Linked DNA regions of Homo sapiens. The protein of the gene in region 6 interacts with the protein of the main gene of each other region in a biochemical or structural test. Each region holds a gene or a part of one and is shown on either strand. Other genes may lie near its edges.

Region 1 (3,500 bases), on a different chromosome or scaffold from region 6:
AAACAGCTGAGTTCAATTAGAAACTTTCTAAGGAGAATAGCATCGCCATTACATTAACCTCCTACCCCTCAATAAATGAAACCCCAAACCAAGACCCACAAGCAATTCTGGAAGAAAACAGGCCAAAGTCAGAAATGTCTTCGGGAAAAAGAATAAATACACAGTAAATATAAGGCCCATCAAGAGTGGAGTTTGTCTTCCGCTTGCCTCACAAGACCCTACAGGCTCCCTAGAAATTCCATTTCTCAACTGCTATAAACTCTAACCAGTGATAGTACAACAGTGGTCTCTACACAGGGGCCACACATTTCAAAGATACAAATGCCCTTGAGATGCAGAGAAAATACTTCTACATCTATTTATTTTTAATATTAATCTTCTTAAAATGTACATTTGTTTTATGTCCATAATATCTTAGCACAGTAAAGTATATGTTTATACATACAGATATATTATACATATACACACACACAAACGTGCATGCAGATATGTATACATGTATACGCATACATACATGAACACTTAGACAATTGTGTATAGATGGGATGCACGTTGAAAAAAGTTTGAGAACCTTGAGAACCTGCTAAAAAGAAACCACTGTTTCTTGCATTAGGCCATTTAAACACCTGAAACAGGTAGCATTTGCCCTGTACAAAGAATCAAAACTATAATTCCTAAAATTACTTATTAGAAACTTCAATACGGAGAGGACAGTATCCCAAAGCTATTCCTGAACAATGTGAATACCCACTGTTCAACAAGGAACCAAATGTGTTATCAAAACCACCTCCAGAAGACAGTGAAAGTAGTTATGCTGACTTCACAGGACACTATGTCTTAAGCATTAACCAGAACTTTCTTTTAAAACTCCACACAATAGTTCATCTCAGCAGACATAATCTTTTATTCACCCAGGAGTTCTTACTTTCCACAATAACAATTTTTAACACTGGCTCTTTACCTAGATATTTTTACTTAAGAGTTTGAATAAACTACCAGATAGCTTACTTCGGACTGTTCTGATTTCTTGAGGAACTCAACTAAATGGGGATATTTCTCAGAAGATTAAGCAAATATGTAGAAGTGAAAAATATGGAGTAATCTAATGGGCAGAGTTCAAGACACCCCTTTTGGCTAAATGTTTATTAGTAAAATAGGAAGAGAAGTATATCAACCAATTAAAACAAAACCGGAAGAGACTGTGGTGTTCTTCCCCACTATCTGAAAGCAATTCAACACAAGAGAATACCAAACCAAAAAATAAGCTGAAGAAAGTCCAACAATATTCTGATTTTTCCTAGAAGCACTGCAGTTCCTAAGGCCTCCGGAGGTCACAGATCACAGTGTGACCCTAGTGTCTCAATCCAGTCAGTCATTTAACACATTTTCTTAATCATATGCAGAAGAGAGTGCTCGTTACTAGGGACACACTGAAAATGAACTCATTATTACTCAGCATAACTTGGTCAGTAGAACCAGCAAAGGAGGTTTGACACACTCTTTCAGGATATCCATGTGGAAAGGTGGAGCTATATGGGCTAGTTATAAGATATGAAGAGCATTAGTAGTTAACTATAACCGAGAGTGTGACTCCTTGTAAGCCTCGAGGGAAGCTTCCAGAGACACACTTCGTGTTGTTCAGCCAGTTTAACAATTTCATCACCGGCTTAAGTAAAGATATAAAAGAGTCTGATCTAATAATGTACAGACAGCATTTCTTTGGGAGGACAGGTAAAGGTGCCAAATAATATAATCAAATTCTAAAAAGCATGATGGAAAGAATCAGCTAAAATAAAGCAAAACCACAGCGCAATAAATGTTAGGTTTTGCAATGACATCAGCGCAAGATGGAAAGACGAGGTTCAATGGCAGCATGTGATTAACGGCTCGGCAGGTTTTAGCGAAAAGGAAACTCGTTGAGTCTGGCCACCAGAAAAGTAAATGCAAACTTGGACTACATCAGTGCAAGCAACATGCAACCTATGACAAGACACTCCTGCTGTACTCTACACAGGTCATGTTCACGGGTCACGTTACACCAAGAGCCCAACTCTGACAGAGACTGAAGGATTTGTTCTGTAGGCCACCAAGGCAGTAGAATTTGAATAAACAAGCAGAATCAGATTTCAATTCTATAGGCCAAAAAACTTTCTAGTACTCAAAACCATTAAAAGGTGGAAATCACCACCCGTTACTTGCAATGTTCAGGTATTACCGGAAGACCACTTACAGAGATTATATAAAAGGATCCAAATATCAAAGAAGGGTTAGTTGAGCTACTCAGTGATTTCTAAACCCCGGTCCTTAGTGAATTTTTCATTGACCCATGCAAAAGAAAAAAGTGTCTGTGTGGGGATAGATATAAATCCACGAGTGGGGTAATTTTAACACAGCTCCTCTCTGGATAGGAAGAACTCTCCTTTAAGTCTGACAGCATACATATTCTTCCCCCTTTCCCCACCTTTTCTCTTTTTTGGTACATCAAAAGGATTTTGACGAAATGCATTGACAATAGGTAGTAACTGCTGTTGTCAATTTTAAACACACTTATGTAGCAACATTAAATGCTGACATATCTGACAATCCCTAATATTTGCTTTTTTTTTTTTTTTTCATTTTACAGGTAGACGAAAACAAAAGGTATAGGAACAACATGACGAGACAATCTTTAAGGTCCTTTCTGGCCCAAAGGAGCATGACAACTAGACTCGACTTGCTGCATATTTTCTTCCTTCCTACCACCCAACTTGGCTATCTAGTACTGGGGGAGAAGAACGAACCAAGGAATTGGGTTGCACTAAATATGAAATCTCTCAAGAAGCAGAACCTCAACAGTGAGTCAAGATCTGGCTCCCTTCTACAGCTGCTGTTCTTTGGAACCAAAGTTTATGAATCCAGTTCAGAAAGGATCAAAATAATCTATGTCTAAAGTTGGGAAGCTTTTAAATTCCTACCACATTGTTACCACACTTTTAAAAGGAGTCACAGCTACATGCAACTGGAACACAAAAAGCAATTTCTGAATCATTGATTTCAAGGTAAACCAAGTAGCTATGACCCTCATGCAAAGCATTCACATACAAACTTACTATAGGCCAAGGCAAAGAAATGACATAATCATGAAAAATATAAACATCCCAGTCAGACAGGCATTTTCATTACTCTAATGCGTTCGTCTTAAACCTTAAAGAAACCCCAAATTTTGGTGCTGAAAGGGATCATGAAAATAGTTTCATCCAAATTCATTTGTGACAGGTGGTAGAGGCAGGAAGCTCAAGGTTCCTGTCTGTGCCTAAAGCTTTTTCTACTCTCACTCTGCAAATGAATTAGGCACATTAACAGAAGTAGAAAACCTAGAACATGGTTCACTATTCTCTAGGACTGTACTTTGTATTTCATTGAAGTTCAAAACAGAAAGAAAAAAAAAAGCAGCTTTTCAATTAACAATACCCTAGTCTAAATTTTCTTCAAATTCAGTGTGTCTTTAAAAGGATTTGTAA
Region 2 (3,050 bases), on a different chromosome or scaffold from region 6:
GCTGCTGCTGCTGCAGGTAGCAGCATCCAGCACCTGCAGGGTCCTGCTCACCACAGGCACCACCTGCTCGTCCAGCTTCATGCCAGGCAGGATCTTCATGGGGATAGAGTAGGAGAGCTCATCCTTGCCATCACTGGCATCATCTGCCATGTCACACTTGCGGTAGTAGAAGCAGTAGCGGATGGAGCAGCACTTGCTGCTCTCACTGTCCTCGTCTAGCTCGGCAGGCTTCCGGTACACCTCCTCGGGCAGTGAGAACACGGCCATCTGTCTGGGGCCTTTGGTCTCTGGGGCAACCTGGACGTAGGAGGGGTCTCCCAGCGTCGGTGACTCCAGAGACCTGCTTTTGGGACCCAAGGCTATGGGGAGGCTTGCCTCTACCTCCTTGGCCTCCCTGGGCAGCATGCCCAGGGGAGGATGTGGGTAGACATCCGAGGTCAGCGAGGCCCTGTCACCCTGGTCCAGCTCACTGATACTGTAGCGGCGCATCAGTTTCCTGTAATTGGGAGCTCCCAGACACTCGCCCCCCGAGGCACACGTGGTCAGGCACGAAACACCACTCTCAGGGTCCGATCGGCACTCTCGGGACTCCAGGCTGGTAGAACGAATGCGCTGGACATTGATGGGGCTGCTGAGGCTCACGCCTGGGCCAGCCTCTGGCTGCCTCTGGCTAGGGAGGACTCTGTCCCTTTCCCTCCCCCGGAGGCTGGGCACTGGTGTCTGGGTGGCTTGTGGCCGGCCCCCCCGGCAGATGCGCTTGCAGTCACAGCTGCGCCTCTGCTCACGGGACATGCCAGGCCCCTGCTGCACAGGGCTGCTGCGGAGCTGGCAGCTGCAGCGGCCAGGTGCTGGAGGTTGCAGGTACTCGGTGCCTGGCAGCTCCCCCTGGCTTGGTGGCTTTAGAAGTTCCTCAAGGAACTCCAGTTCATACTGCTTTACCTTCTGCAGTTGGGCCTGCCGCTCATCTGTCTCCTTCTTCTGGCGGGTTGGGAAGGTGGCAGAGAATAAATTGCGTAGCCGGAAAGGACCTCGGGATGACTTGGGTTTGGCAGGGCCTTCAGAGGTCGAGTGGGCTCCATTGAGAGTTGTTTCAAGCTTCCTAGAGGGCATGGTGCTCACCTGCCGGCTGGCAGCCTGAGACCTCAGTGGGCTCTGGCCTCGAGGTTGGCAGCTGGGGCTCTGACCTCGAGACTGGCTGCTGGGGCTGTGGCCATGAGGCTGGCAGCTGGGGCTGTGGCTTCTTGACTGGCAGCTGGGGCTCTGCAGAGCCATGGGGTAGGTAGCTCGGGGAACCAGGCTGGTCTCTTCGAGCTTGCTTCTTTTGGGTGTGCTCTCCAGCTGCGCCTTCTCCCCTTGGCTGGAGATGGTGCCCTGCTTCTGCAGGGTGGGCTTACCACCCACTGGCCCGCCTTTGCCTGCCACCTCCCCTGTAGCTTGCTTGCCCACTGACTCTCGGCTTGTTCGCAAAAGATAGCTTTTGGGAGGGAAATTTTGAACAGGCAGACTGTCCTCTTGTTGGGAGAGGTGCAGGCTGTCAGCCCGGCTGCCTGTGGGTGCTCTGGGGCTGGAAGAGACCTCTGCACCCAGCTGATGTTGAGAATTCCATGAGGTCTCTGGAGCACTGGGGCTAATTTTGAACTTCAGATTCTTACTGGCACTGCTGCTCATCATGCTAACCTCTGGCCTCCCCATGCTGGCCTCCAGCCTTCTCTCACCCCTGCTGGGGGGGTTCCCCAAAGCCCCACCAGCAGTGACTAGACTCTTATTGTGAACCACTTGCTGTAGGGCGGCCGAGATGATGGCAGGGGTCACACTGCTCTTTGGGTCGAGGATAAGCTTGGGGCTCAACCTGACCTCCTTGGGCAGGTTGTCCCTCAGCTCAGAGACCTGCTCTTCACTGAGGGATGATGTGGCTGCCCTCAGTGACATTTCTAGGCCTGCCCTAGTGTGGCCAGGCCCTTTGTCCTCAGGAACTGGGGACAGCAGACTCAGATTCTTCTGTTCACTAAGCTGTGGGGACAGTGCTGGGTGCACTGCCAAGGAGTATGTTCGTTCTCCCTGTACCTGGCCCTCTGACTGGGGCAGCTTCCTCCGAGCGCCAGGGGGGCCAGGACTCTGGCCTGTGGCAATGGGTTGGAGAGATGGGTTGGGATCCGGGCGCCCAAGAGAGTAAGGGGCCGTAAGAACGGCCTGGGCTGCACAGCTCTGGATCCGGAAGGGCAGGTCCTTGCGGGCAAGGAGGCTGTCCTTGTTGAGGTGCTGGGCCAGGAAGTAGGTGGTGTTCTGGTGCTGCTTCATGGCCGACATCATCTCTGACATGTCTGTGAGCTCTGAAGAGTTGGTTTCATGACCTGAGTCCAGCGATGATTCAGGAGTGATTGTGGCCAGCACAATCAGACCTGGAGGAACAGGGATAGGGCTTGTTATGCTTACTGAAATCAAGTTCTTTTCCAGCTCTACACGGTTGTCCCTCGGTATTCATGGGCGATTGGCTCTAGGACTCCTGAAGATTCCAAAACTTGCAGATGCTCAAGTCCCTGATACGAAATGGCATAGTATTTGCATGTAACCTATGTACATCTTTCCATGTACTTTAAAGCCTCTCTAGATTACTTATAATACCTCACACAATGTAAATGCTATGTAAATAGTTGTTATACTGTGTTGTTTAGGGAATAATGACAAGAAAAATCTGTACATGTTCAGTATAGACATATTTCTTTTTTTCAAATATTTTTGATCTGCGGTTGGTTGAATCAGTGGATGCAGAACCCTCAGATACAGAGGGCTGACTATATAGGAAGTGCATAGAAGCCAAGGTTAGCCAGCAGTATTTCCAGCTGGAGAAAAACAGACAGGCCTGGCGAGAATGCAGGGCTGAGGGTGGGAAGAGTGGAGGGGAGGGGACAAAGAGGGGCAAGCTATAAGAAGGGGATGAAAGGCCGGAATCCAAAACAGAAACAAAAGAGGTGGCGAGAGGATCTGGGCAGTTTTATGGCAAATTACCATGTGAATCACATGCAAAACAGCATGCTAATCACAACTATTTT
Region 3 (3,500 bases), on a different chromosome or scaffold from region 6:
ATACTCCTAGAGTGTTCAGTTCAGTTGTAGACACTGGTTAATTTAATAAAGGCACATCCTATTACCATGACAGGGTCATGAATAAAGAGTCCCTATAAAGATTCTACTTTTTAATCTTAATCTACATGAGGAGTAGAAACAAATCATTATGAATTCTGTGGGGGATGTGTATAGGTAGGATTAGTTCAAGTGGAATTATGCTGCGATTTATAAGCACATCATGGCCTTAAAAATGGAGCTAACTACAACTCCTCTCCCTTTTAAAATTAAACTTGTTTTAAGAAGAATCCCTTTGTTGATCTACAGTGTGCTAAATAAAGATCAGAAAATAAATTACCTACAATTAACTTTTCATAATAAGTGGGAAGAAGGGAGTGGGAGAGCTCACGTAATTATCTACACTTCCTGGGCTTATGAATGTCAAAACATTTTTATTATTCTAACAGCCTAACTTGCTTGAGGAACACCACATCCAGTGAACCTCATGTAGTGCCTGGCAAACAGGAAGAGCTTACCAAATGGTTGCCATTATTATCAATGTTGTTGTTTCAAAATAGCAACTTTAGGTCAAAGTACTGATACCATACTGTGATTTTTCAGAGTCAAATCATAGTGAGGCAGGTACTTAAAAAAGCACAGTACAGAAGTCTAATGATAAAGACCAGCCACTGGGCACATATCCAAAGATGATATAATCACTCAAGGCGGGGGGTTGGAGATGAAGGGAGAGAAAGAAAAATTAGAAGGCAATCACCCACTTTCATTTACAAAAAAGAAGTAAAAGAAAGATGGAAGAAACAAAAATAGAAAAAGCCAATACCACCAAAATGGAAAATACATTAAATCTAACAACACTTCAATAAAGGCATATTAATTGAACATTTCTTTTCATAGGCATTGAATACCTAAGTAGAAAATCAGCTGCATGTAATGACAAAACCATACAGACATTTGTACCTATTTGTACCAACTTACCTTATTATTGCAAACATGGAATTGAAGTTCTTACATTCTCGACAATGAAGTGCAATTTTAATAAAATGCTTAATAATCTTCATTCGTTTGAGCTGATTTGCTTCAGTTAAAATTTCTGAGGCAACCCAGAATGTCTCTTGGTTTACAATGTCCTCAAACCTCTTCAAATGAGTATTTCCTGTTTTGGAATTTAACTTAAAAAGGTCATCGATGTACTCAGTCGGTTCAATATTACGAAACAAATCAAAGTCCCTCATTGACAGCTGGGTGGCCACCTCAATGGTACTGAGCTGCAGCATGGATAGCTGGCTTTCCTTAACTAGTTCTTGAGCATCTTCATCTGAACATAAGGTTTCTGTTTCCATGTTATTTTTTAAGTAATACCTAAATGGAAAAATTTTTTTAAATAAATGTATTCATAAATATGATTAAATAAGAGCACTTTTCCTTTTTGTCGTTGTAAAATATCATTTTACTGTTAATAACTTTTAGCCAAAAATATTAATTTACAGATAAAATGAAAAGTTAACATTTTAAATGAAAAGATTTTTGAGAAGTCTGTCTCTTATTCTACCAACTGGCATCTATTAAAGAGTAAAAATAATGTTGTTATGTCATGAACTTAATTATTTTATGAAACTATCTGTCAGATACTATTTTAGGTACTGGCCTTGCCCTCGTAAAGCTTTTATCTTACTGTTTTATCTGACAGAGGATTGGTACTATGTAAATATTTGTTTATGAATAGCATGAATTCTAATTAAGGCAAAATAAATTCCTGAATCAAGACGGTTAAAAATCTCTATTCAGAAGTTACTCCACTCACTTCCTTTTTAAATAAATTTCCAAGTGAAGCAAGAGGAATGAAATCTACAGAGGAGGGGAAACACTTCCACTAATGGTTTCTCCCTTGTTAAATACAAAACCTCATTCCAGCAAGTGGCACTTATCAGTTACCACACATTAAGACCTATATTTTGCTTTCTTCTCTTAAATCAACAATTCTACAGCACTTAAAAGTAAGAGACAGGAAACATCTTGTGCAGGGATGTTACTAAGGAAACGAGGTAATGTATCACCTGCTTTTACTTCGTTCTTTTCTAATAATCCAACTTGATTTAAGCCTAAGTTTGTATCCATCTATCCATCTATTTTTTACTGTCAAGAAACTCTTTTTTCTGCTTTTAGACTGTTCATATGCCTAAGACAATGCCATAAATAATAGTGCTGAAACTCATTATGCTATATATAATAATGTTTAACATTATAAGGTATGGTATACTTAGTAACTCATTTAATCCTTACAACATTCCCATGAGGTATATTCTACTATTACTATCCTCATTTTATGGGTGAGGAAATTCAGGTAGAGAAGCTACATATGACTTGCTCAAGGTCACATAGCCAGAGCTGGGATTTGAATGTGGGCAATCTGAATCCAGGGTCTATGCTCTTAACCACTATGTACAGCCAGCAAAACAGAGTTAACTCATTCTCATTTCACAGCAACCATGGCATGCAGTCACTGTAAGCTTTCTAGGGATCTTGTTCTACATATGAAACTGGGTTACCAAAAAGATTATTCTCAGAGTGGTTGAGTGTGGTAGCTCACACTCGTAATGCCAGCACTTTGGGAGGCTGAGGCAGGCAGATCACTTGAGGTAAGGAGTTTGAGACCAGCCTGGCCAACACGGTGAAACCTCGTCTCTACTAAAAATACAAAAATTCGCCAGGCATGGTGGCATGTGCCTGTAGTCCCAGCTACTCAGAAGGCTGAGGCAGGAGAACCGCTTGAACCTGGGAGGTGGAGGTTGCAGTGAGCTGAGATCGCGCCACTGCACTCCAGCCTGGGCGACAGAGGGAGACTCCATCTCAAAAAAAAAAAAAAAAACCAGAGTAAGGAACAAATGTACTACAGAAATAATCTAGTTTATTAAATAATTTTCAGAACACATTTTAAAATTTTTAAAATTTTCCTGCATATTCATTAAAGGAAAACTACTTAGAAAAAGAACTGTGAAAACCATGGCTTCTTTTGCCAAAGTACATACTGGCCATATTAAAAACAAATTTATAAATTAGTAGATACAGTCATTCAGATATATATGAAGATTTGTATCATTCAGCTTCCTCTATAAAAAAACAGGAACTAGATTATATCAGTGGTTCTAAGAGTTTATTTTAGCAGGAGTGACAAGATATTTTATCAAGCGTCTTCTGGAGTGAATTTAGGAGCACTAAAACATGATAATGTTTCTACTTACAATAGCTGTTTTAACAGGAAATCTTCAAAAGCACATCTACAAATAAGCACATCCACTAATAAGCTTATTCACCTTCCATTGAGTTGAATTCTATCAGCTAATTTGGAGAACTGATCTGGAAGTCTTCTCTGTTTTATGACACCCTCAGGAGTAACAGAAACTTCACAGAGAGAATATGTGTCGGATGCACCGGTCAAACCAAATTCATGAACAGCATGAAAAACTACTTCTTTAGCTGTGGTGTCTTTACTGATGATAATG
Region 4 (2,465 bases), on a different chromosome or scaffold from region 6:
GTGGTGGCATCGCCGAGCGTGGGGGCATCCGCGTCGGCCACCGCATCATTGAGATCAATGGGCAGAGTGTGGTGGCCACGCCACACGCCCGCATCATCGAGCTGCTCACCGAGGCCTATGGCGAGGTGTGCGGGTGGTGGGTGGTGGCCAGGGGCGCCCCCACGTCCCCCACGAGCCCAGGCCTGCCCTGAGCCCCGTTCCGCCTCCACTCCCCAGGTGCATATCAAGACGATGCCAGCTGCCACATATCGCCTCCTTACAGGCCAGGAGCAGCCCGTGTACCTGTGACCACCTCATCCCTTGCCTGCCACTGTGCCTTCGCCTCCATGGCCCCGGAGCCCCATCCTGGGCCTGCCCTGGCTGGCCAGGACCCCAGCGGTTCTTGGTCCTGTATGATTTCCTAATATAAAAACAGTAAAAGCTTATGCATTTGGCAAAGTCTCGGATCAGGGTCTACGGGACCGAGGACCTTGTCCTTCCTGGAAGCCACTAGAAGCCGGTGCTGTGAAAATACTCTGTTTATTAAAGACCAGGCGGAGGGAGGTAAGGTTGTGGGTTCTGTATGGGAAACTGAGTCCCAGCCCCAGGGAGGGAGAAGGAGGACGGACCAGCTGGCAGCCTTCGAGAGGTCACAGGTCAGTGGCCGGACCCCAGTCATAGCCGTCTTCATCGGAGGACTCCGCATCATGTACTCGCATAAACTTTTTCTTCAGGGCTTCCCGTTCATAGGTTCTGGGGATCAGGAAATAGAATAGATGCTGTGGGTGGGAAGGGTGTGAGCTTTCTCACCATAAACTGAGGCTGGCTGTGCTAGGCACAGTGGGTGTGGGCAGAGATAAGCACATCTGGGCATTCATGGGTAGGGCCTTGTTAACAAACTCCTATGCATCCCTCAAAGCCCCAGCTGCAATATCCTGCCCTTCAAGAAGCCTTCCTAGGCCTCCCAGGAAGTGGATTCCTACTCCCTTGGCCCTGATTATATGGGGCTTAGAGAGGCTCTGGCAGGCTCTGTCTTCCCCACTAGGCTAGGGGCACCATGAAGGCATAGCTTGGATCTAGATCTGAGTCCGCAGAGTCTGAGTCCCAAGGGAAGGGTTGAGGGCCCCAATCTGGAATATGGGGTTCTTACCGCATGCTGTCCTGTCGCCACTGTCCCTGGGGGTGGCGGCTGTCCACCTTGGAGGAGAGGGAGAGAGGAGCTTCAAAACTCCCCCCAGAGCATGGTGAGTCGAGATCAATAACCACCTCCATCCCATCCCCCACCTTGGCCCGGGCCATGCTGCCCACTTGCTAACCCCGTGACAAGTCTGCAGGTCATCCCCAAATCTAAATGAGAAAACTGAGGCTGGGATAGGGGAAGGCCTTAGCTGAGACCTCCTAGCCTGTCAGCAAAAGGGGAATTGGGTTTCTCATCTGTGCAAGTCCTCACAGGGCCACAGCCATGAGTTCATGTACGTAAAGGACTTAGTACAGTGGCTGCTCCGTATGCAGCCTGCCATGGACAGTTGAGCAGGTTGGGTACTGCACAACCCCAGGAAAATCACTCTAATCAGAGATGTCATTGATTCATAGATTTTTACATTGACCTAGAGAGGGTGTGGAAGAAGATGCTGAGGCATATACACTAAGAGCTACATACACATTTGTTACTGTTAAACACCCAACTACAGCTGGGCGCTGTGGTTCACGCCTGTACTCCCAGCACTTTGAGATGCCAAGGCAGGAGGATCACTTGAGCCCAGGAGTTAGAGACCAGCCTGGGCAACATAGCAAGACCACATCTCTGCAAAAAATGAAAAAAAATTAGCTGGGTGTGGGTGGTGGTGCGCGCCTGTGGTCCCAGCTACTCCGGAGGCTGAGATGAGAGGCTCCCTTTAGCTCAGGAGTTGGAGGCCGCAACGAACTATGATTGTACTACTGCACTCCAGCCTGGGCAGCAGGGCAAGACCCTATCTCTAAAATTTAAAAAATAAAATATATAAATTAGATAGGTCAAGTTCAAAAAGACACGCAACTACTATGTGCCAAAACTTGGGCTGAGCACATTGAGTGCTCACCACCGCCCTGTGCCACCAAGTCTGATACCATCCACCCTGTGTCCTAGATGAGGAAACAGGTGCACAGAGAGGTTAAAATGTTGGCTGGAGGCCAGGTGCGGTGGCTCACGCCTCTAATCCCAACACTCTGAGAGGCCGACGTGGATCACCTGAGGTCAGGAATCGGAGACCAGCCTGGCCAGCGTGGTGAAACCCTGTCTCTACTAAGAATACCTTAAAAAAAAAAAAAAATTAGCTGGGCATGGTGGTGCTCACCTGTAATCCCAGCTACCTGGGAGTCTGAGGGAGGAGAAACGCTTGAACACAGGAGGCCGAGGTTGCAGTGAGCCCAGATCGTGCCACTGCACTCCAGCCTGGGTGACAGAGCGAGACTCTAACTCAAAAAAAAAAAAAAAAAAAAAAAAAAAA
Region 5 (3,500 bases), on a different chromosome or scaffold from region 6:
GTGAGACCTGCCTCAGCCAGGCTGCAAAGGGATTGGCATGTTGGCTGAGAGGCTTGTGCCCTCTGGAAGATGAACCTCCCTCCTCAAAGTCCGCAGCCGAAGATTCAGCTTCCTGGGGAGCCCTTTCTGATAAGAAAGTTCTCTTCTGAACACACCCGACACCTGGGCTTCCTCCCCATTTGTGTGATTTCTTTAGAGAGAGTGGCAGTTTACAACCATAGGAAATTAGGAAACCATGGGCCATGTGTTTGCATGTGCTTCTTTTATGCTAAAATGATACTGTTCTACCACTGCTTTCCTCTTTTGCTTGGAGTAGCTGAGCAGCTGGGAAGTAATGAGCCATACTTCGTATCAAGTTCCAGTATTAGCTTTGCCTGACAAACAACTTGGGGGCCAACCCTTGAGGATGATAGCTTTGTAAAAACATGTGAGAAACCACAACTTATTTCACTCTTACGTGGATGTGAAACCCTTCAATGAGAGGCAAGGTCAAGTTCATCCGTGCCCAACTAGACATGCTGCAGAGCTCATCTCAGCTCACAGAGAAGGACCTGAGCATGGATTTGGAAGCTCCATGCTCTTCAAGATCTGGACTCCTATCCGGCACTCCAGCACCCAAATTTGTGGCTTCTATTCCCAAGGTTACTTCGTGGTCCTGGTTAGCAGCTGGTGTTCCAACCATCATGCTTACCCCCAGGTGACAGGGAGGAAGAAGGGAGATAATGCTAACCGGGGAGTTCCAATTTCAGATGAGCCAGCTTTCTCCTTCCCAGAAGTCCCACACTACTCTTCCATTTTATTGACCATGATTTAGTCACCTGGCTACACCTAGTTAAACGAGAGTCTGGGAATTAGGATTCTTTTTAAAAAAAATTTTAGCCCTTAGTCTGGATGGTTCTTGCCCCAAAGAGAATCAAGATTCTGCTGGAAGGGAAGAGGGAGATAGCAAATCTTGTAGTTTCTCCTGTATCTCTTACTGTGTACCCGCATTAAATCTTTACTGACAGTAACAGGATAAATTCCATTCTAAACATTCTTTACATGCAGAAGGCTCTTCGGGGAAGGAACCCAAATGCCTGTTTGTTTTTGTTTTTGTTTTTGTTTGAGACAGGGTCTTGCTCTGTTGCCCAGGCTGGAGTGCAGTGGCATGATCTCGGCTCACTGCTACCTCCGCTTCTCAGGTTGCAGCGATTCTCCTGCCTCAGCCTCCCAAGTATCTGAGATTACAGATGTGTACCACCATGCCCAGATAATTTTTGTATTTTTAATAGAGATGGGGTTTCTCCATGTTGGCCAGGGTGGTCTTGAACTTGTGACCTCAGGTGATCTGCCCACCTGGACCTCCCAAAGCGCTGGGATTACAGATGTGAGCCACTGCACCCGGCCCCAAATGCCTGTTTTTATTTGAGATAAAATGGTGAAAGGTTAAGGTAGTAAAAGCAGTTGATGAGAGGTCCTGTCATTCAGAAACGCCTCTGGTTCAGAAAGCAGTGCTGCAGGGCAGAAAGAGCACTGGCATCCAGGATCTGCCTCTGACCTGCTGTGACACCTCCAGCAAGTTGCTTGCCTTTCTAAGCTCTAGTTTCTGCACAGATCCATTGAAGCTAATAGCCAGGACCTCATGGGATTGTTTACAGGGTTAAGTAAAGCCACGTCTGTAAACTGCCAGGTGCACAGTGAGTAAGGCCCCTCCCTGAAGGAAGCTTGGCTACAGCAGTATTTGGTCATAAACCTTGAAGACCCAACACAAGCTGTCTCATTTTGGGTAAAATTCAGCTTCTAGACTAGGAGAAAGGGGCCCTTGGTTCCTCACCTTCATCTTGTTCTGGATCAAATTCCAAAACTTGCAGGCAGAAGAAGCCGTTATATTAAGAAAAATGGTGAAATATACTTAATATAAAATTTACCATCTTAACAAATTTTAAGTGTACAATTTAGTGGTATTAAGTACATTTATGTGATTGTGCTACTATCACCACCATCCATCCATAGAACTCTTTTATTTTGCAAAACTGAAACTATTCCCATTAAAGAGTATTTCACCATTCCTCTCTCCTTCCAGCTCCTGGTAACCACCCTCCTGCTTGTCTCTATGAATTTGACTACTCTAAATACCTTGTATAAGTGGTGTCATGCAGTAGTTGTCCTTTTGGTCCTGGCTTAGTTCACTTAGCTTAATATCCTCGGGGTTCATCCATGTAGCATGTGTCAGAAATTCTTTCCATTTTAAGGCAGAGTATTATTCCGTTGTTTGTGTATATTACATTTTATTTATCCATTCATCTGTCCATTGAAGGAGACTTTCAATGATTGGAGGTTTGGAAGGAGCAGTCATGGGCTGAGAAAACACAGTGGTGGCCAGAGGCTCTGAGATGAGAAAACTGGAGACTAGTTCAGCAAGTACCGAGGCTCGTTTTGGCTGGTTACCCAGGGTTCCAGGTGAATCCTTGGGTGATCTCGAGTTAGATATGGGGGACCACCAGGTGCAAGGTTAAGAATCATGAGCTTGATTCTAAAGGTAGTGTGAAGTCATGCAAGGTTGTTGAGCAGTGAAGTGGACAGAAAAACAGCTGTGGTTTATTTAGCTAATTTTCACTTTTTTTCCAGAAATATTTGGGATACAGGGTTCACTGTAAGAAGAGAAATTTGGAAATTTTTGTAGTTGCCTGGAGTTCAAAGGAAGCTAGTATTTTCACTATAAGCTAGTTGAGAAGAAAGGAAGAGAGATTTCTCTGGATTCGCAGTGTTGGCTGGATATGTGAGAGAAAAAACCTTGAAGCCAACAGGTGGCACTGTAGGGCTGAACAGGCCACAGTGAGTCTTCTGTTGGGCAGGCAGCCTTCTCCCCCAAGCTGTGCCCAGTTTTATCCAGGTCAGGTCTCTTCATTCTAGAAAAAGATGTGGATTCTCCTACCTAATGGAGATTTCATGTCCCTCCTGGCTTTTTCTCATTCTACCCTTTTGCAGCCTCTCTTCTTTCCTGGTGATTTTTCTATGGATTGAGTGGATTCCAGGTCTTTAAGTGTGAAATGTGAAAAGCCCATTGCATAAGAGAGCCCGACCTCATTGAGCTGGTTCTCAGCCCAATCAGTGCCTTTGCAAACTGCCCAGGTATGTAGAGATGCTGCCATTTCCTTCTTGTCATGGGCAGGCAGCCAGATGGCTTCATCAGCCAGAAAATGAGGGAATCCGTTTGGGATGCTTGAGGCATGATGCTTAGAGAAGATGCCCACCCAGGCCCTTCTGAGATCCCTCTAGGAAGGGCCAGGATCAGGGTGAGGTGAGGGAGGCACTGCTTTGAGGGCAGAATTTTTTTTTTTTTTTTGAGACCTCTGTCGCCTAGGTTTGGAGTGCAGTGGCGTGATCTCGTCTCACTGCAACCTCCGCCTCCCGGGTTCAAGCCATTCTCCTGCCTCAGCCTCCCAAGTAGCTGGGACTACAGGCACGTCCCACAATGCCCGGCTAGTTTCTGTATTGTTAGTAGAGATGGGGTTTCACCA
Region 6 (3,500 bases):
GTAATTCCAGCACTTTGGGAGGCCAAGGCGAGAGGATCACTGGAGCCTAGCCTGGGTAATATGAGATCTTGTCTCTACAAATAACAAAAAAAAAATTAGCTGAGTGTGGTGGCACATGCCTGTGGTCCCAGCTACTCAGGAGGCTGGGGTGGGAGGATTGCTCAAGCCCAGGCAGTGAAGGCTGCAGTGAGTCATGATCACACCACTGTACTCCAGCCTCGGTGACAGAGTGAGACTTTGTCTCAAAAGAAAAAAAAAAGAATTCTCCAATTATAATTGTGAAATTGTGGATTTGTCATTTTCTTTTTGTAGTTCTGTTTTTGCCTTGTGTGTTTTGATGCTGTTATTAGGTGCATACATATTTAGGATTGCTACATCATCTTGATGAATTGAGCCCTTTATTGTATTGAAAAGACCCTCTTTATCTCTAGTAATATTTTTTGCTCCAAAACATACTTTGTCTGATATTAATATAGCCACTCCATCTTTCTTTTGATTAGTGGTAGCAAGATGTGTCTTTTCCCACTCTTTTATTTTGAACCTATTTGAGTCTTTTCATTTAAAGTTGGATTCTTGTTGGCAGCCTACTGTTGGACCTTACTTTTTGTTCTTATTTGACAATCTTTGCTTCTTAGTTGAAGTGCTTAGACCATTTACTTTCAATCTGATTATTGATATGGTTAGATTTAAATCTACCATTGTACCATCAATTCTTTTCCTCTCTTTTCTCCTTTTCTGCCTTCTTTTGGACTTAGTATTTATTATTATTACTCCATTTCTTTTTCCTCTTGCCCTTCTCCTCCTCCTCCATCCTTGCTAATTGGGTGTAATTCTTTTTTTTGTTTTGTTACTCCAGTGGTTGGTTCAGGGTTTATGGTATACATCTTTAATTCATCAATCTGTCTTCAGGTGACATTACACTGATTCATGGATAGCCTAAGAACCTTCCATTTCTCTCCTCCTGAACTTTATGCCATTGCTGTCATATATTTTATTTAAATCAAAGTTATAAATCTCACAATACATGATTATTATTTTTTACAGAATTTAGACATTGAGAAAAATTCTATATATTTACTTGCATAGTTAAAATTTCTGATCTCCTCCATTCCTTTGCATAGGTCCATATTGGCTTCTGATAGGCTTTCCTAAACATTACTTATAGTTTGGGTGTGTGGGTGATATTTCCTTTCACCTTTTGTATGTTTGAAAAAGTTTTTATTATGCCTTAAAAAGCCAGCATTATTGAGATATAATTCACATGCCACACAATTCACCCATTTAAAGTATACATCAATATTTTTTAGTACATTCCTAGAATTTTGCAACCATCACTATACTCAATTATGGAACGTTGTTGTCACCACAAAAATAAACCCCCTACCCATTAGCAGTCACTCCCTATTTCCTCCAACCCCCTTAGCCTTAAGGAATCACTAATATGTTTTCTGTCTCTAGATTTGCTTGTTCTGCACATTTAGTGTAAATGGCATCATATAATATGTGAGATTTTGTGACTGGCTTCTCTCACAGCAGAATGTTTTTAAGGTTCATTCATATAGTGGTATGTTTTAGCACTTCACTCTTTTATGTACAAATAATATTCTATCACATGGGTATACCACATTCTAGCCATTCATCAGCTGATGGACATTATTTCATCTTTTGGCTATTATGAATAATGCTGTTATGAATCTTCATGTAAAAATCTGTGTGTGAACATGTGCGGTATAAATTTAGGAGTGGAACTGTGTAGTCATATGGTAACTCTACGTTTAACATTTTGAGAAACTGCTAGACTAGTTTCCAACGTGGCTGCTTCATTTTACATTCCAATCAGCAGTAGTATATAAAGGTTCCAATTTCTGCATGTCCTCACTGACACTTTTTTTTTTTTTTTCTGAGAGAGGGTCTCATTCTGTTGCCCAGTCTGGAGTGCAGTGGTGCAGTCATAGCTCACTGCAACCCCGGACTCCTCAAGCCATCCTCCCACTTCAACCTCCCAAATGTCTGGGGTTACAAGTGTGTGCTATCACGTCTGACTGCCTTTTTGATGATAGCCATTCTGGTGGGTGTGAGTGGTATGTGATTGTGGTTTGATTTGCATTTCCCTGATGGTTAATGATGTTGATTGTCTTTCATGTGCTTATTGATCATTTATATATATTTTTGTAGAAATGACTATTCATATCCTTTGCCCATTTTTAATTGCTTTATTTTTCCCTTTATTATGGAGTTGTAAGAATTCTTTATGTAACCTGGGTACAAGTCTTTTATCAGATATACAACTTGCATATATTTTCTTTCATTCAGTGGGTTGTCTTTTCACTCTCTTGATGCTATCCTTTGAAGTACAGAAGTTTTAAAATTTGACGTGTCTAATTTATCTATTTTTCTTTTGTTTCTTGGGTTTTTGGTGTCATGTATAAGAAGGCTTTTTCTCACACAAGGGCACAAAGATTTTCTCCTGTATTTTTCTAAAAGTTTTATTTATTTATTTTTTGAGACAGAGGCTTGCTTTGTTGCCCAGACTGGAGTGCAGTGGCGCAATCTCAGCTCACTGCAACCTCGGCCTCCCAGGTTCAAGCTATTCTTGTGCCTCAGCCTCCCGAATAGCTGGGTAATCTAAGAGTTTTATAATTTAGCTCTACATGTAGGTCTTTGATGCTTTTTTTTTTTTTTTTTGAGACAGAGTCTTGCCTTGTTGCCCAGGCTGGAGTGCAGTGGTATGATCTCCGCTCACTGCAAGCTCCGCCTCCTGGGTTCACGCCATTCTCCTGCCTCAGCCTCCCCAGTGGCTGGGACTACAGGTGCCCGCTACCTCGCCCGGCTAATTTTTTGTACTTTTAGTAGAGACGCGGTTTCAGTGTGTTAGCTAGGATGGTCTCGATCTCCTGACCTCGTGATCTGCCTGCCACGGCCTCCCAAAGTGCTGGGATTACAGGCGTGAGCCACGGCGCCCGGCCTGTGATCCATTTTGAGTTAATTTTCGTGTATGAGGTGAGAAGGGTCCGACTTTATTCTTTGGCAAGTGTATATCCAGTTGTCGCAGTACCATTTGTTGAAAAGAGTATTCTTTCTCTGGTGAATTGTCTTGGTACCTTTGTAGAAAATCAATTTATCATAAGTGTGAGGGTGTATTCCTGGACTCTGAATTCTATTCCACTGGTCTATTTATCTAACCTTATGCCAGTACCATGCTATCTTGATTACTGTTGCCATGTTGTAAGTTGTAAGATTGGGATGTGTGAGTCCTACAACTTTGTTCTTTTTTTTTTTTTTTTATTTTTGAGACGGAGTTTCATTCTTGTTGCCCAGGCTGGAGTGCAATGGCGCGATCTCGGCTCACCGCAACCTCCGCCTCCCGGGTTCAAGCGATTCTCCTGCCTCCTGCCTTGGGAAGCCTCTCCTGAGGCTTCCCAAGTAGCTGGGATTACAGGCATGCGCCACCACGCCCGGGTAATTTTGTATTTTTAGTAGAGACGGGGTTTCTCCATGTT
Region 7 (3,500 bases), on a different chromosome or scaffold from region 6:
CTGCTGACCATGCCCACCAGAGCACACAAGGCTAGCTGCCCCCCTCCTCTGCATGGTGGCTCTACAGATACCTGGCCACTCCCAAATCTTCCCTTTTCCAGGCCATGGATTTCTAGCTCTTCCCTGCCCTCTGTTGCCCTGCCTCCCACTAATTTCATCATACTGACCAAGGCCAAGAGGCAATGGGAGTGAGGGCAGCACTTTAATGAGAGGGCACTGTTTCCAACACATGCCAGCTGAGAGGGCTCTAACTTACTCAGTTTGTTTGGTGAGGAGAGTGGATAAAAAAAAACAAACTTTTTTTTTTGGAGACAAGGTCTCACTCTGTTGCCCAAGCTGTAGTACAGTGGTGTGATCAAGGCTCACTGCAGTCTTGAACTCCTGGGCTCAGGCAATCCTCCTCCTCAGCCTCTTGAGTAGCTGGGATTACAGGCATGTGCCACCATGCCCAGTTAAGTTTTTTATTCTTTGTAGAGACAGGAATGTGGCCCAGGCTGCTCCTGAACTCCTGGCCTCAAGCAATCCTCCGGCCTTGGCCTCCCAAAGTGCTGGGATTACAGGTGTGAGCCACAGTGCCCTGCCCATCTAATTAAAAACAATTATTATTATTATTTTTTTTTTGTAGAGACAGTGTCTCACTATGTTGCTCAGGCTGGTCTCAAACTCCTGTGTTCAAGCCATCCTCCGACCTAGGCCTCCCAGAGTGTTGGGATTACAGGCATGAGCCACGGTGCCTGGCCAAGAACCTGATTCTTAGTGATACTAAGAATGTGTCACGTTTACTGAACACTGTCCCTATGGCAGCACTATACAACTTTATGTCCTTTTCCACATTTAATCCTTACATAATTGGTGAGACAGCCACCTTTATCTTACCATCTTATGTCACAGATGCAGAAACAGGCTCAGAGAGATGAAGTGATTTGTGAAGGGAGGAGCTCAGCCTGAAGCCCCAGTAGGGTATCAGTATTTCTGCCTGGGAGCCAGTGCTCTTGACTTCTTTTCTGTAAGTCTCCCTACTTGGGGCTTCCACTCAAGGCAACTTCTCCTTCCCCATGGACCTGGCAGAATCTGGGGTTTGGGGGTTGTTGGTCCCTCAAGTCTAAAAAAAACGTTCATTCATCTTTTGCTTTATTGTTTTCAAAGTCTTTCTACACAATTTATTCAATCCTATCTGTGCCCCTACTCCAGGCTCTGAGCTCCATGCTTTCTCCATAGGCCATGTTGCCCTTCAGGGTTTAGCATCACTGCCTCCTGTCCAGCTTAGGAGTTCAGTGGACAGAGACTGACTCTCAGGTTTCTAAGGAAACCTGGCAGACAGCTGGGTCCGCACAGGCTCTGGCTGTAAACTGTGATCCCCACAGGGGCAGCTGGGTCAGCACAATCCTCATAGTCTGTCCCTGGCCAGCTGGTTCCTTTCCTAACTCTGCAGGCTTCTGAAAGCCAGCTCAGCTTCATCCGAGAGACAGACATAGGACAGAACAGAGCCAGGGTGGGAGGTGGCACCTTAGGGAACGTCTCCTCAGTGTCCCCTCCAGATTCTCCTTGGTGTCCAGGGTGCTGAGGGCGTGGGGGTGTCCGGCATTCTGCATGTGAGGAGCGAGCCGGGCCTCCAGCCGCAGCTGGTCCAGGCGTTGGGAGACGGGGTCATGTTCAATCAACAGCTGAAGTGTCTGGCTCGTCTGGCTAATTGCATCCTCCACCTGTGGCCAAGAGCAGTATAAAGCTCCCACAGGCTGCCCCATCCCAGGCCACCCATGGCCAACCCAGATGACTCAGGCACAGTGTGGCCAGTGCTCAACTTGTCTAATGGTGGCCTTTAGCTGCCAGTGGCCTCACAGTGCCCTCTGCCTGGCATCCTGTCAGCTCTCCCGTCCATCAACCATCCCTGCTACCCTGGGAACCTGTTACGCTGAAATAGGTCACCAGTGGTCACAGGCTCAATGCTAAGACAAAGAGATGGGCTGGGGGTAGGAAAAGGTAAAGGCTACAGCCTGATTTCTCAGAGGATCTGTTCCATGTCCCACCCTCACAAGACAGATTAGACACACACTCTACCTCCTCCACTCGAAGTGTGCGGACGGGGGTCCCATTGATCTCCAGGATGCGGTCCCCAGGGTGGATGGCGTTTCGATTGTTGGGACTGATGTGCATCCGGTTGACCCTGGGCCAGACAAGAGTTGAGGCAGGGTAAAGATGTCCTAAAAACCTGCTTGACCAATTCTGCTTGTGCAGGGAAGGTTTACCAGGTCCCAGGCCACCAGTGGCCCCTAAGGGGCCCAGGATACCCACACAGAAAGGCAACACCTTTTCCAGGATGCCCCATCTCAGTGAAGGGAATTGCCACTCACCCTGTGGCCTAAGCCAGAAACTTGAACATCATCTTCCCAATCTGGAGTTCCCTCATCTCTCCTACTCCCATCTCTAAGAACTCTGCCTTCTTTCCATCATTGTAGTTATTCACATCTCTTACCTGGATCACGGTAATAGCTTCTATTTTTTTTTTAAACTTTGTTTTTAATTTTTATTTGAGATGGCATCTTACTCTGTCATCCAGGCTGGAGTGCAGTGGCATGATCTGGGCTCACTGCAACCTCCACCTCCCAGGCTCAAGCAATTCTCATGCCTCAGCCTCCTGAGTAACTGGGATTACAGGCGCGCACCACCATACCCAGCTAATTTTTTTGTACTTTTTGTAGAGATGGGGTTTTGCCATGTTGGCCAGGCTAATCCCAAACTCTTTTTTTTTTTTGAGATGGAGTCTCGCTCTGTCGCTCAGGCTGGAGTGCAGTGGCGTGATCTCTGCTCACAGCAAGCTCCGCCTCCTAGGTTCATGCCATTCTCCTGCCTCAGCCTCCCGAGTAGCTGGGACTACAGGCGTCCGCCACCATGCCCGGCTAATTTTTGTACTTTTAGTAGAGACGGGGTTTCATTGTGTTAGCCAGGATGGTCTTGATCTCCTGACCTTGTGATCCGCCCACCTCGGCCTCCCAAAGTGCTGGGATTACAGGCGTGAGCCACTGCGCCTGGCCTAATCCCAAACTCTTGACCTCAAGCAATCTGCCCACCTTGGCCTCCCAAAGTGCTGGCATTACAGGCGTGAGCCACTATGTCTACGTCTGGACTTTTCTTTTAATTAAGAAAAACAGAGACGGGGTCTTGCTATGTTGGCCAGGTTGGTCTTCAACTCCTGGCCTCAAGCAATCCTCCCACCTCAGCCTCCCAAAGTGCTGAGATTACAGGCATGAACCACCATGCCCAGCCTACAATAGCTTCCTAACTAGTCTCTATACCTTTAGGCTTTCCCCTCTCCAATCCAACCTCCATACCAGTGATCCTTCTAAAATGTTAACTTGGTCACAACACCTTGCTGCTTAAACTCTCAATGGATCTGCTGGATTTTCATAATCCAGGCCCTCTATACTTAACAGCCCCTTTTCTGGCCACACTCAACCTACATCAGACATGATTAAGACTCCTACTTTTGGAGAAATGCTTCT

What was found.
Region 1: the proteins of RAMP3 (region 6) and SIPA1L2 interact in a test that uses a peptide from one of them, tested with the Homo sapiens proteins (one large-scale study listed by IntAct).
Region 2: the proteins of RAMP3 (region 6) and FRMPD3 interact in a test that uses a peptide from one of them, tested with the Homo sapiens proteins (one large-scale study listed by IntAct).
Region 3: the proteins of RAMP3 (region 6) and RAPGEF6 interact in a test that uses a peptide from one of them, tested with the Homo sapiens proteins (one large-scale study listed by IntAct).
Region 4: the proteins of RAMP3 (region 6) and TJP3 interact in a test that uses a peptide from one of them, tested with the Homo sapiens proteins (one large-scale study listed by IntAct).
Region 5: the proteins of RAMP3 (region 6) and PDLIM1 interact in a test that uses a peptide from one of them, tested with the Homo sapiens proteins (one large-scale study listed by IntAct).
Region 7: the proteins of RAMP3 (region 6) and LIMK2 interact in a test that uses a peptide from one of them, tested with the Homo sapiens proteins (one large-scale study listed by IntAct).

Annotation. Positions count from the first base shown.
Region 1 is NC_000001.11:232,623,634-232,627,133, forward strand, and holds part of SIPA1L2 (signal-induced proliferation-associated 1-like protein 2), read right to left. Parts: intron 1-3,500.
Region 2 is NC_000023.11:107,599,652-107,602,701, reverse strand, and holds part of FRMPD3 (FERM and PDZ domain-containing protein 3), read right to left. Parts: intron 2,400-3,050; coding exon 1-2,399.
Region 3 is NC_000005.10:131,460,730-131,464,229, forward strand, and holds part of RAPGEF6 (rap guanine nucleotide exchange factor 6), read right to left. Parts: coding exon 3,312-3,500; coding exon of another isoform or gene 3,308-3,311; exon of another isoform or gene 2,884-3,307; intron 1,360-2,883; coding exon 976-1,359; intron 1-975. UniProt on the Homo sapiens protein: Guanine nucleotide exchange factor (GEF) for Rap1A, Rap2A and M-Ras GTPases. Does not interact with cAMP.
Region 4 is NC_000019.10:3,748,849-3,751,313, reverse strand, and holds the end of TJP3 (tight junction protein ZO-3), read right to left. Parts: intron 1,177-2,465; coding exon 1,130-1,176; intron 733-1,129; coding exon 630-732; 3' UTR 501-629; downstream 1-500. Other genes in the region: APBA3 (amyloid-beta A4 precursor protein-binding family A member 3), read left to right, coding at 1-125, 217-409. UniProt on the Homo sapiens protein: TJP1, TJP2, and TJP3 are closely related scaffolding proteins that link tight junction (TJ) transmembrane proteins such as claudins, junctional adhesion molecules, and occludin to the actin cytoskeleton.
Region 5 is NC_000010.11:95,242,504-95,246,003, reverse strand, and holds part of PDLIM1 (PDZ and LIM domain protein 1), read left to right. Parts: intron 1-3,500. UniProt on the Homo sapiens protein: Cytoskeletal protein that may act as an adapter that brings other proteins (like kinases) to the cytoskeleton. Involved in assembly, disassembly and directioning of stress fibers in fibroblasts.
Region 6 is NC_000007.14:45,164,291-45,167,790, forward strand, and holds part of RAMP3 (receptor activity-modifying protein 3 precursor), read left to right. Parts: intron 1-3,500. UniProt on the Homo sapiens protein: Accessory protein that interacts with and modulates the function of G-protein coupled receptors including calcitonin gene-related peptide type 1 receptor (CALCRL), calcitonin receptor (CALCR) and G-protein coupled estrogen receptor 1 (GPER1).
Region 7 is NC_000022.11:31,260,798-31,264,297, reverse strand, and holds part of LIMK2 (LIM domain kinase 2), read right to left. Parts: intron 2,165-3,500; coding exon 2,059-2,164; intron 1,704-2,058; coding exon 1,507-1,703; intron 1-1,506. UniProt on the Homo sapiens protein: Serine/threonine-protein kinase that plays an essential role in the regulation of actin filament dynamics. Acts downstream of several Rho family GTPase signal transduction pathways.